Linked DNA regions of Homo sapiens. The protein of the gene in region 1 interacts with the protein of each later gene in a biochemical or structural test. Each region holds a gene or a part of one and is shown on either strand. Other genes may lie near its edges.

What was found.
Region 2: the proteins of RPA1 (region 1) and PRPF19 form a complex in vitro, tested with the Homo sapiens proteins (2 studies listed by BioGRID, with this or other methods).
Region 3: the proteins of RPA1 (region 1) and RAD51 form a complex in vitro, tested with the Homo sapiens proteins (2 studies listed by BioGRID).

The regions. Positions count from the first base shown.
Region 1 is NC_000017.11:1,878,369-1,882,020, forward strand, and holds part of RPA1 (replication protein A 70 kDa DNA-binding subunit), read left to right. Parts: intron 1-624; coding exon 625-693; intron 694-846; coding exon 847-1,039; intron 1,040-1,191; coding exon 1,192-1,331; intron 1,332-2,174; coding exon 2,175-2,323; intron 2,324-3,652. UniProt on the Homo sapiens protein: As part of the heterotrimeric replication protein A complex (RPA/RP-A), binds and stabilizes single-stranded DNA intermediates that form during DNA replication or upon DNA stress.
Region 2 is NC_000011.10:60,889,895-60,893,316, forward strand, and holds the end of PRPF19 (pre-mRNA-processing factor 19), read right to left. Parts: intron 1,370-3,422; coding exon 1,272-1,369; 3' UTR 653-1,271; downstream 1-652. UniProt on the Homo sapiens protein: Ubiquitin-protein ligase which is a core component of several complexes mainly involved pre-mRNA splicing and DNA repair. Required for pre-mRNA splicing as component of the spliceosome.
Region 3 is NC_000015.10:40,708,552-40,712,203, reverse strand, and holds part of RAD51 (DNA repair protein RAD51 homolog 1), read right to left. Parts: intron 3,180-3,652; coding exon 3,088-3,179; intron 1-3,087.

The DNA.
Region 1 (3,652 bases):
TTTGTGTGATGGCAGAATCAATATTAGAACCTAATTTTTTTTTAGAAATTATTGCTCTAATGTATGGTGGTTGGCTAAAATTTCTTGTCCACTTGTAAATTTTGGCTGACAGAAAAGCAAAAGTGAAAATCAGATCACAAGCAACTTGCAAACATGACTTACTCTGACATTTTTGGCAATGGCTCCGAATGTGAAGTGGTTTGTCACTGAGAGGGCACTGTGGAGGGAGCCGGTGAATCACCCCGTGGCAGCACCTTCCTCGTGGGCTCTGGGCGTGTCCCTCAGTATTCAACTTTTTTTGTTTTTATTGTCAGAATAAATTAAACTCGTCATTGCCGTTTTGTTCTGTTCTGTTTCTCAGTTGAGGCTAATGCAGCATGATTATGGGATCGGCTAGCTGAAATTCTCATTCTTCAGCGGGGCCAGTGACTTCAGTGTGTGACTGTAAAATGCGGGTTCCTGGGATGTCCGTAGCCCTCTCTGGACCCTGTTTGTGCAAGGGCCACTGCTCTCAAGATGTCACTTTGGTGCTAGGGTGGCCTGTGTTCTATCCCAGTGTCACTTGGGTGCTGGGGTGGCCTGTGTTCAATCCCGCAGCCCTAACCTGCCCACGTGCTTCTGCAGGGTGAAATCCGAGCTACAGCTTTCAATGAGCAAGTGGACAAGTTCTTTCCTCTTATTGAAGTGAACAAGGTATGGCCGTGCTGACTTTAGAACTGACACCGCCTGGGGGTGGAGTGCGGATGAAAAGACGCTGGCCCAGGGGAGGGGTGTGTGGTGGCAGACTAGGGGTTTCTGTCCGATTTGATGGTAGTCTCAGGTTCTGTGGCTTGGCCTCCTTCGCAGGTGTATTATTTCTCGAAAGGCACCCTGAAGATTGCTAACAAGCAGTTCACAGCTGTTAAAAATGACTACGAGATGACCTTCAATAACGAGACTTCCGTCATGCCCTGTGAGGACGACCATCATTTACCTACGGTTCAGTTTGATTTCACGGGGATTGATGACCTCGAGAACAAGTCGAAAGACTCACTTGTAGGTAAGCTCGTGTATGAGAAGGAAGAGCAGGGATGACTAGCTTTCTTTGCAGTGTACGGGGTGGTGTCAGGCTTCAGTGCTTGCCGTTCATCATTTGCTGGCGTCGGAATGGGAGTCTTGACCACCTCCTGCTAACACGTGCATGTGTTTTAGACATCATCGGGATCTGCAAGAGCTATGAAGACGCCACTAAAATCACAGTGAGGTCTAACAACAGAGAAGTTGCCAAGAGGAATATCTACTTGATGGACACATCCGGGAAGGTGGTGACTGCTACACTGTGGGGGGAAGATGTAAGTGCTGGGATGGGGTCTTCAACACGCACAGGACCTCCTGGGGTTGGGGCGTGGTCTTGTCCTATAGGATGGGGCCTTCAGCACACACAGGAGGAGCTCCTGGAGTTGGGGGAGGGAGTGGTCTTATCCTATAGGATGGGGCCTTCAGCACACACAGGAGGAGCTCCAGGAGTTGGCGGAGGGGGCATCTTGTCCTATAGGATGGGGCCTTCAGCACACACAGGAGGAGCTCCTGGAGTTGAGGGAGGGAGGGGTCTTGTCCTATAGGATGGGGCCTTCAGCACACACAGGAGGAGCTCCTGGAGCTGGCGGAGGGGGCGTCTGTTCCTATAGGATGGGGCCTTCAGCACACACAGGAGGAGCTCCTGGGGTTGGGGGAGGGAGGGGTCTTGTCCTATAGGATGGGGCCTTCAGCACACACAGGAGGAGCTCCTGGGGTTGGCGGAGGGGGCGTCTTGTCCTATAGGATGGGGCTGTTAGCACACACAGGAGGAGCTCCTCGTGGGGGCGGTTTTGTCCTATGAGTTGGGGGCTTTCACCATGTAGATGGGAAGGATTGTGCTGTCTGGTAAGTATTTAAAATCCTTTATCTTACTTCTGTGAGATTTGCTGTGATTCAAGCTTTACGCGGGGAAATGCTCTTTCCCCTAACTCTAGGAAAGCAGTGATAGTTTTGATGTGTCTCTGAGTAGATTCTCATGTGTGAGGTCTGTCTTGTATGGATTCCATGTACGCTGATTACATTCACTCTACTATTGAATGTTTGCCTTGTTTTCTATAAAAATCTTCTGTGTTCTTCCTGCTAGTGACACTTGTATATGTCTGGTGTTTCTTTTACAGGCTGATAAATTTGATGGTTCTAGACAGCCCGTGTTGGCTATCAAAGGAGCCCGAGTCTCTGATTTCGGTGGACGGAGCCTCTCCGTGCTGTCTTCAAGCACTATCATTGCGAATCCTGACATCCCAGAGGCCTATAAGCTTCGTGGATGGTAGGTTTTGTGGGGCTAAACAAAGGGTTACTTGAGGCTGGGCTTTGAGAAAAGCTGGTTACAATCAGCATGGGAGCTTTCTGCCAAGCAGAAGCCTTCGTCCCTGAGTGGTGCAGCTTCCGTGTTTCTTGAAGGCATTATGCCTTCTGTGAGGAGGGCTTTAAAGCCCTTAAACGGACAAACCTGTAATCCCAGGACAAACCTAGAGAGTCGGAGGAGGCAATTAGCATGTAAGTGCTGCCTGCTGACCTCGATCCTGCCAAAGGAGGGGACGGCCAGGCTTCAGCAGCGGTGTGCTGAAGGCGCCTTTCTTTCCAGGGTTTAGGCTCTGGGCCTCTGTGGCGTGGGGGAACACATGCTTTCTTTCTCTGTCAAGTCTTTGGTGCCGATCACATCTTCTAGTGTGTATTCACTAGACTCTGATCAAGTGTGGTGAGAACAATGGGCTTTTTGTTAGGATTAGATTGTTATTCCCAAAGCACTCAAGGGATGAGGAGAGCCTGTTAAAATCTCCTCACTGTATCTAGCTTTTTAGGACATTCAAACTCTGTCTTAAAAGAGTACTTCAAACTGAGACACAGGATGCAAGAATTGATGTGGTCAGGGAAAACACTTTCACCCAAGCTTCAATAATTCCCATAGCTGTAGTCTATGGGGGGGAAGTGTGTCAGTTTCCAGCTGTGTCTTAGGATTTAAGCAGCTAAAGAATGAGCTCATTTTACATACTCCTCCTTTGTTTTGAGTCATTTAAACCAATGGCACTGGTGTTTGACCAGTTTCATGAAGCATCTTCTGGAATGTTCATGTCACTGAGCCATCCTCATGAGTAGTACGGTCCACACGTATCTGCCGAACTGCAGGGCCCGTTCATAGTCTGACCAGAACTAGCCACAGATTTGCTTTTTTCTTATTGCTTGATTTTCTTTTAGGCTCTGGAGTTCGACTCCAGGTTAATTGCATTCCCACATTAAAATCGCATTCCCACATTAAAATTGCATTCCCACATTAATGTCTTCATCTTTTACTTGTCAATAATCATGATCCCAGTCAACATAAAAAGCACGGCTGTCCCCAGAATAAAATAACTTGGCATTGATCAAAGACAAGCTCAGTGCATACATGATACCTGGACAAGGATTAGAGATGTTTAGATCTTGGCTATAACAATGCAGAGTTTTTATTGTAAGAAGGGCCGCCTTGACTCCTGACGAGTGATCTTTGGTGGCAAATGTCTCCTTGGAGCTTTTGAAACCGTGAACTTGTGTAGCTAGTAGTGGTGAAACAGATGGATGGGCCTTGCTGTGCCCCTGTGAGGGATTTAGCCGCTTA
Region 2 (3,422 bases), on another chromosome or scaffold:
ACTATTTTTTGTCTATAATCACTGACTCCCACACTTCCTCACCTCATATCCTCTTACCCCACTCCAGGGAGGCAGCCAGCCCCGACCTTCCACTGGGATGGCCCTTGTCAGGGGACTGTCAATCACCCCAGACTGTACACCATGGTTCCCCCGACTTTGCCACCATGACCTCCTTCCTGTTCCTCCATATATCTCGCTCAGTCCAGCCCTAGAACCTGCTCTCTGCCTGCCAACACTCCTCCCCTCTCAGGTCCCTCTCATTCCAGCTTCAGCTTCATCACCACCACTTCAGAGGCCTTTCCTGACCTGCAATCTAAAGCAGTCACGTGACCCTACAGGAATTCCCTATAAGGCACATTCATTATCAGATCTTTGTCCCGAAACCAGTCCTACCACAGCTTTTCAATCGCCAGAGTCAATAAAAAAATCTCCTTTTTGACTTATGCCAGCTGAGGACAGGCTAGAAAGCCTACAACTAAAGAACCCTGATGGAGATGCTCAGACCTCCCCACCAGCAAGATCCAGCTAATCTTCCCTGCAGGTCTCCCTCCCTTCCAGGCTTGTGTAGGAAACCAAGTCTACAAGGCAAGTGGCAGGACTAGTGACTTGAGGCCTTTAGACACAAGGTCAAGAACCGCAGGGACATGGCAAATTTCATCTGCAGATTTGTTTTTATTTCTGCTGTGCAATTAAAAAAAAAAAAAAAGGGTAAGAGCTGTGAAAGGAAAGGAAGATGGGCTTCCCGGAAGCCAGTGTCCCAGTGTGTGCTCCCTCCCCTTGACCTTCCCAGTCCCAGGTGCTCCTGGTGCAGACAGACACGGGGAGGTGGTTATGGTTATTGTTTTCTTTTTTTAATGAAACTAGATCACTGCTTACAAAACCCTGCACAAGCCCTCCTGCCCATCCCCTTCACAGTTCCCTTGGCTCAGCCTCTCCTGTCTCACAGGAACTGCAACAAAATGGGTGTGGAACAGCCACCACCACGTCCATTGAACGACAGGAAGGGAGAGGCCCTGGGCTCCGACCCTGGGCCTTAAGAGGGTGACAGTTCTTCCTTCCACATCCGTTCCCATGGGGCCTGGAGTTGCATGGATGAGGGTGGTCCATGCCACCATGGTTCTCAGGCCACCACTCAGACCAGAGTGAAATGATGTGAATGTCCCACCCCACAGAGCCCCCTCCCCCCATAGATTCCCCCCACCCCCCCCCCCAAACCCTAATTCTACCCCTCTACTGAGATGAGGCCCAGCTTCCATCAGAAGGGCCAGGGCCTACAGGCTGTAGAACTTGAGGCTTCTGTCCATGCCTGTTGAAGCGATGAACTTGGCGTGATGCCCGAAGGCCACCCCTGTGGTCAGGCCGCTATGCTCTGAGGAGAAAGATAAGAGGCAACTGTGAGAAGGCTTTTCCTCCTTTAGTCTGAACACTGATCCCTAATAACAGATTCCCAAACAACCAGGCCTTCTCTAATTAGTATTTATCACACCGCAGGCTCCTGTTTGTTTTCCCTAGGCTGACCTGCACACTACCCCCAGTGCCTCCCTCAGTGCCTGGCATTTTTCACTGGTGGGATGAATGAATAAAGCAATGCCAGCCCCCCCTTCTCACCTGAGCTTTCTGGGCAACTGCAGTTCGGCTAGGTTTAGTTGAAAAACCTCAGAGCTCAGCTTGTTTATGCCTAGTGCTCACTACTTGCTCGTAAGTGGAACAGTCCATCAGCATTTTCTAGCTCATAGTGTTCCAACCCCAGGGCACTCAGGCCCCTAACACAGAGCAGGACCAGATAAGAGGCAGATGAGGCTGGGCAACATTCCTCATGGGACTCCAGAAATTCATGAACATCTGGCCAAATTCCTTCTAGATTTAGGATCACACCTGGAGTCAACCAACTCCCCATTAAAAAGCTCACGCTGTATTTTCAGCTACCTAACTCGGTTCTAAATCAAAACACCAGGTACAGTACAGGGTGAAAACCGGTGAGCCATATTGTTAGGATGGACACCTTTGTTATACAAACACACTGAGCAGGGCTCAGGAGAATACGGGGCAAGAAGAAATATCTTGTATCCTGCTCACAACCTGCTAATGAGGACGAGAATTTCATCAACACACACAGCAGTAGCTCCCATTCATGTAGCATCTTAAGTGAGCATCAGGCACCCTGTTACCAGCATATTAGCATGCCATCTCCACAACACCAGCTGTCACACCCTGCAAAGCTGTGCCAATATTCCCATTTTCTAGATGAAGGAGTTCAAGATCTGAAAGGGAAAGTCACGTACCCAGGGCCACATAACTGTTAGGTTAGAAACCCTGTTACCCATTCTCTCAGCATCTCATGCTTTTCTTCTCTAGCACTTATAATTGCAATTAAATGTGTACATGTGAAATTAATCTACATCTGCCTTACTAACCTGACTATAAATTACATCAGTGCCCAAATCGGGTCTGTTTTATTCACTGCTCTATCCCACCACAGACTAAGACCCAATGCTGAGTGAGAACAACTGCAAATCCTGACTACGTGCCAGACACCGTTCTGACCTATGTATTCACAGACGGTCCCCGATTTACCATGGTTCAACTTGCAATATTTTCAGCTTATGATGCACTTATCAGGATGTGGCTCCATCGTATATCAAGGAGCACCTGTATGTATTTTCATCTAAACCTCAACAACCCCACTGAGTCTATAGTTACCATTCCCACTTTTCTGAGAGGTTAAGTAATATTGGATCTCAGAAAACAATACCCCAAAGTATGGTGGTTTGGCACGCTGAGGGCTTTGAACCAAGGTCTCTCTGACCATGTCCTGCCCTCCTGTCTCTTGCCCCTCTTTCTCTAAGGGCAGGTCATCTGAAAGGAACATCATGAATCCCCTTCCTGGGAATCTCAACCAGGGAAAATGAACTGGTCTCACAAGAGAGAAGACTAGATGCCAGTCTTTGTCACAGACTGTCATGCATTATTTATCTAAGGTCTGCTCTGAGACAACTTTTATTACCTGAGAGACTCTGTAGTGCACTTCCTCCCCATCCCCCCACATAACTTGTGTCACCACCACCCCCTAGAAGCCTTAGGCCCCTACTCCCTTCTGCAGTTCAGGATGCCATAGAGTCATGTGTCACATAATGACATGTCAGCGACGGACCACACAAACACTGGTCCCATAAGATTACAGTGGAGCTGAAAAATTCCTATCACCAAGTGATGTCATAACCATCATCATGTCACAATGCAATGCATTATTCACGTTTGTGGGGATACAGGTATAAACAAATCTACTACACTGCCAGTTGTATAAAAGTATAATATAGCTAGGCGCGGTGGCTCACGCCTGTAATCCCAGCACTTTGGGAGGCCGAGGTGGGCAGATCACGAGGTCAGGAGTTTGAGATCAGCCTGGCCAACATAGTGAAACC
Region 3 (3,652 bases), on another chromosome or scaffold:
TCTTTTCCCTACTTCTCTTTATTGTCACTATCTTAGTTTCCTGACCAGCTAATGCTTACTCTTCATAAAATCAAGTTTAAACTTCTTAACCTTCTGAAATAGGATCTTAATTTTTTTTTTTTTTTTGAGATGGAGACAAAATCTTGCTCTGTTGCCCAGGCTGGAGAGCAGTGGTACAATCTTGGCTCATGGCAACCTTGGCCTCCTGGGCTCAAGCGATTCTCCCGCCTCCACCTCCCAAGTAGCTGCCACTACAGGCACAGCCCACGTCTGGCTAATTTTTATATTATTTGTAGAGATAGGGTCTTGCCATGTTGCCCAGGCTGGTCTCAAACTCCTGAGCTCAAGCGATCCACCCACCGTGGCCTCCCAAAGTGCTGGGATTACAGGTGTGAGCTATCATGCCCAGTTTGATGTATCTTTTTAAGGGTCATCTCCTACAACTTTTCTACACAAACTCTAAACCAGTTAAATGACCTTGCTTATTTATTGTCTTTTCCTTCTAACTTATGCCTTCCCATCCTCTGTTCATCCCATTCTATACAGTTAAATGCTTTTAATTTCCTTCCTTCCCAAATTTAGCATTCTTCAGAAGTCTGGTCCAAAATCTTTTCTCCATAAAGTATTCCATGATCACTCTAGGGTGAAATTACCCCTTTCTATTCCTTAAACAGCTAACCCATTTCCTCTGTGACATTCATTTTATATATCAGGCATGTTTTTGGACATCTATTATCTCCACTCATTCAAGCATTTATTGTTTACTGAGAGCCAAACACTGCCTTAGGCACTAGCAATACAGCAGAAAACATGCAGTGGCACGATCCCAGTCACTGGAGCCTCGACCTCTTGGGCTCAAGAGATTCTACCACCTCAGCCTCCTGAGTAGCTAGGACCACAGGTACACATCATCATGCTGGGCTAATATTTTTAATTGTCTGTTTTTGTTTGTTTGTTTTTAGAAATGGCATCTCAGAAACAGGGTCTCACTATGTTGCCCAGGCTGGTCTCAAATTCCTGGTCTCAAGCAATCCTCCCACTTTGGCTTCCCAAAGTACTGGGATTACAGGCATGAAACACCATGCTGGCCTCTTATGAAGTTTTAAGAACATCATCTCTGAAGTCTGGTTTGAGTCCAGTATTTGCTACTTAAATACAATGTATTGGGCAATTATTTAACCTACTGTGTCTATTTCCAAATCTTCCCACCAATAGGAGCATAAGTAAAGGAAAAAGAAACTGAAGGGGTCCAGGGAAGGTTTTTTCCTAATGGAGGAGACACTAGACATATTTGTATACTGATGAGGATAATCTCATAGAGAGGTACAAGAGAAAATGGAAGGAGTAGAGTCCTTGAGAAGGTGGCAGGAGATGGTAACCAAATCATATTGATAGAATGGGCCTTTGAGAAGAAAAGGGACACTTTCTCAATTGTAACCTGAGATAAGAAAAGATGGGCACAAATGTAGATTTGATGCAAAGAGCAGGTTAGGTTTTTGGCTAAGAATGAGAGTTGAAGAGGAGCATAAAGTTCTGATAACAGAAGACGAAGTATGAGATATGAGATGCCTGTCTAACTCAGTGGGAAAGTACACCTAAATGGAGAAAGTAGACTGCCAAGAAGTTTTGAATGTTAATCTAAAGTTTTGTCATCTTGAATTTTTTTCCTTTTTTCATTCTTTTTTTTTTTTTTTTTTTTTTTGAGACAGAGTCTCGCTTCTTTGACCAGGCTGGAATGCAATGGTGCGATCTCAGCTCCCTGCAACCTCTGCCCCCCGGGTTCAAGCGATTCTCCTGCCTCAGTCTCCCAAGTAACTGGGATTACAGGCACGTGCCAACACGCCCAGCTAATTTTTGTATTTTTAGTAGAGACAGGGTTTCACCATGTTGGCCAGGCTGGTCTTGAACTCCTGATCTTTTTTTTTTCTTCTTCTTTTTTTTTTTTTTTTTTTTTTTTTTTTTGAGACAGAGTCTCGCTCTGTCGCCCAGGCTGGAGTGCAGTGGCGCAATCTCGGCTCACTGCAAGCTGTGCCTCCCGGGTTCACGCCATTCTCCTGCCTCAGCCTCCCAAGTAGCTGGGACTACAGGCACCCGCCACCACGCCCAACTAATTTTTTGTATTTTTAGTAGAGATGGGGTTTCACTGTGTTAGCCAGGATGGTCTCAATCTCCTGACCTTGTGATCCGCCCACCTCGGCCTCCCAAAGTGCTGGGATTACAGGCGTGAGTCACCGCGCCCAGCCAAACTCTTGATCTCAAGTGATCCACCCGCCTCGGCCTCCCAAAGTACTGGGATTACAGGCGTGAGCCACCGTGCCTGGCCTGTCATCTTGAATTTAAAGTGAAGTCAGTCAGCTGTATGATACGATTTTTCTCCAGTATAATCAGCTATTTGGGTACAGACACTGAGAAGATAGATGAGTTTCATCTAAGGTTGGCATCTCTTCAAGTGGGTATGTAAACTGAGGCTATCTGCAAGAGAATTACTTTAATGATGAATCATAAAATCTAGACTAATGAAGAAGATGGAGGGCTGGGCGCAGTGGCTTACGCCTATAATTCCAGCACTTGGGAGGCCAAGGTGGGTGGATCACTTGAGATCAGGAGTTCAAGAGGAGCCTGGCCAACATGGTGAAACCCCCTCTCTACTAAAAACACAAAAATTAGCCGGGCATGCTGGTGGGCGCCTGTAATCCCAGGTACTCGGGAGGTTGATGAAGGAGAATCACTTGAACCAGAGAGGAGGTTGCAGTGAGCTGAGATCACACCACTGTACTTCAGCCTGGGCGACACAGCGAGATTCTGCCTCAAAAAAAAAAAAAAAAAAAAAAAGTAGCAAGTAAAGCCAGGAAAAGGCCTGGTAGCAAAAGTATTTGAAATTAACGTATCTGATAGGAGATCAATGATTTGGAAGTTTCTATGACATGGAAGGATTTTGAAGTAGGAGTCTATCTTCTAACTATTAACAGCTATAAGATTCTTGAGGACAGAGAAAGTACCTTTTATGGCCATCCTAACAGATGCTTGCAAATAGCAGGAATGAAGTAATGCTTGCTTATTTGATTAGCTATAGCCCCAACAGCTCACCTGGCAGGTGACAGCTAGCGTATGACAGATCTGGGTCTTCCCAGTTCGGAATTCTCCAAACATTTCTGTGATAGATCCAGTCTCAATTCCACCTAAAAAAGCGATAAGAAATAACTCTTAGCATAATACAAACATGTAGAAACTGTAGTCATAGAAATGTTCTTGGAGCTCATCAGAAAGATGTTTATGTAAGTTAAAAATTCAATTTCCAACAAGCGATAATTTTTCACAAATGTATTTTGAGGCTAGCCGTGGTGGCTCATGCCTGTAATCCCAGCACTTTAGGAAGCTTAGGTGGGTGGATTGCTTGAGTTCAGGAGTTCGAGACCAGCCTGGGCAACATGGTGAAGCCCTGTCTCTACAAAAATTAGCCGGGCATGGTGGCGGATGCCTGTAGTACCAGCTACTCAGGAGCTAAGGTGAGAGGATCACTTGAGCCTGGGAGGCAGAAGTTGCAGTGAGCCAAAATCGTGCCAGTGCACTCTAGCCTGGGTGACACAGTGAGACCCTGTTTCAAAACAAACAAACAAACAAACAAATAAACCAAAAGTATTTTGAAATAATT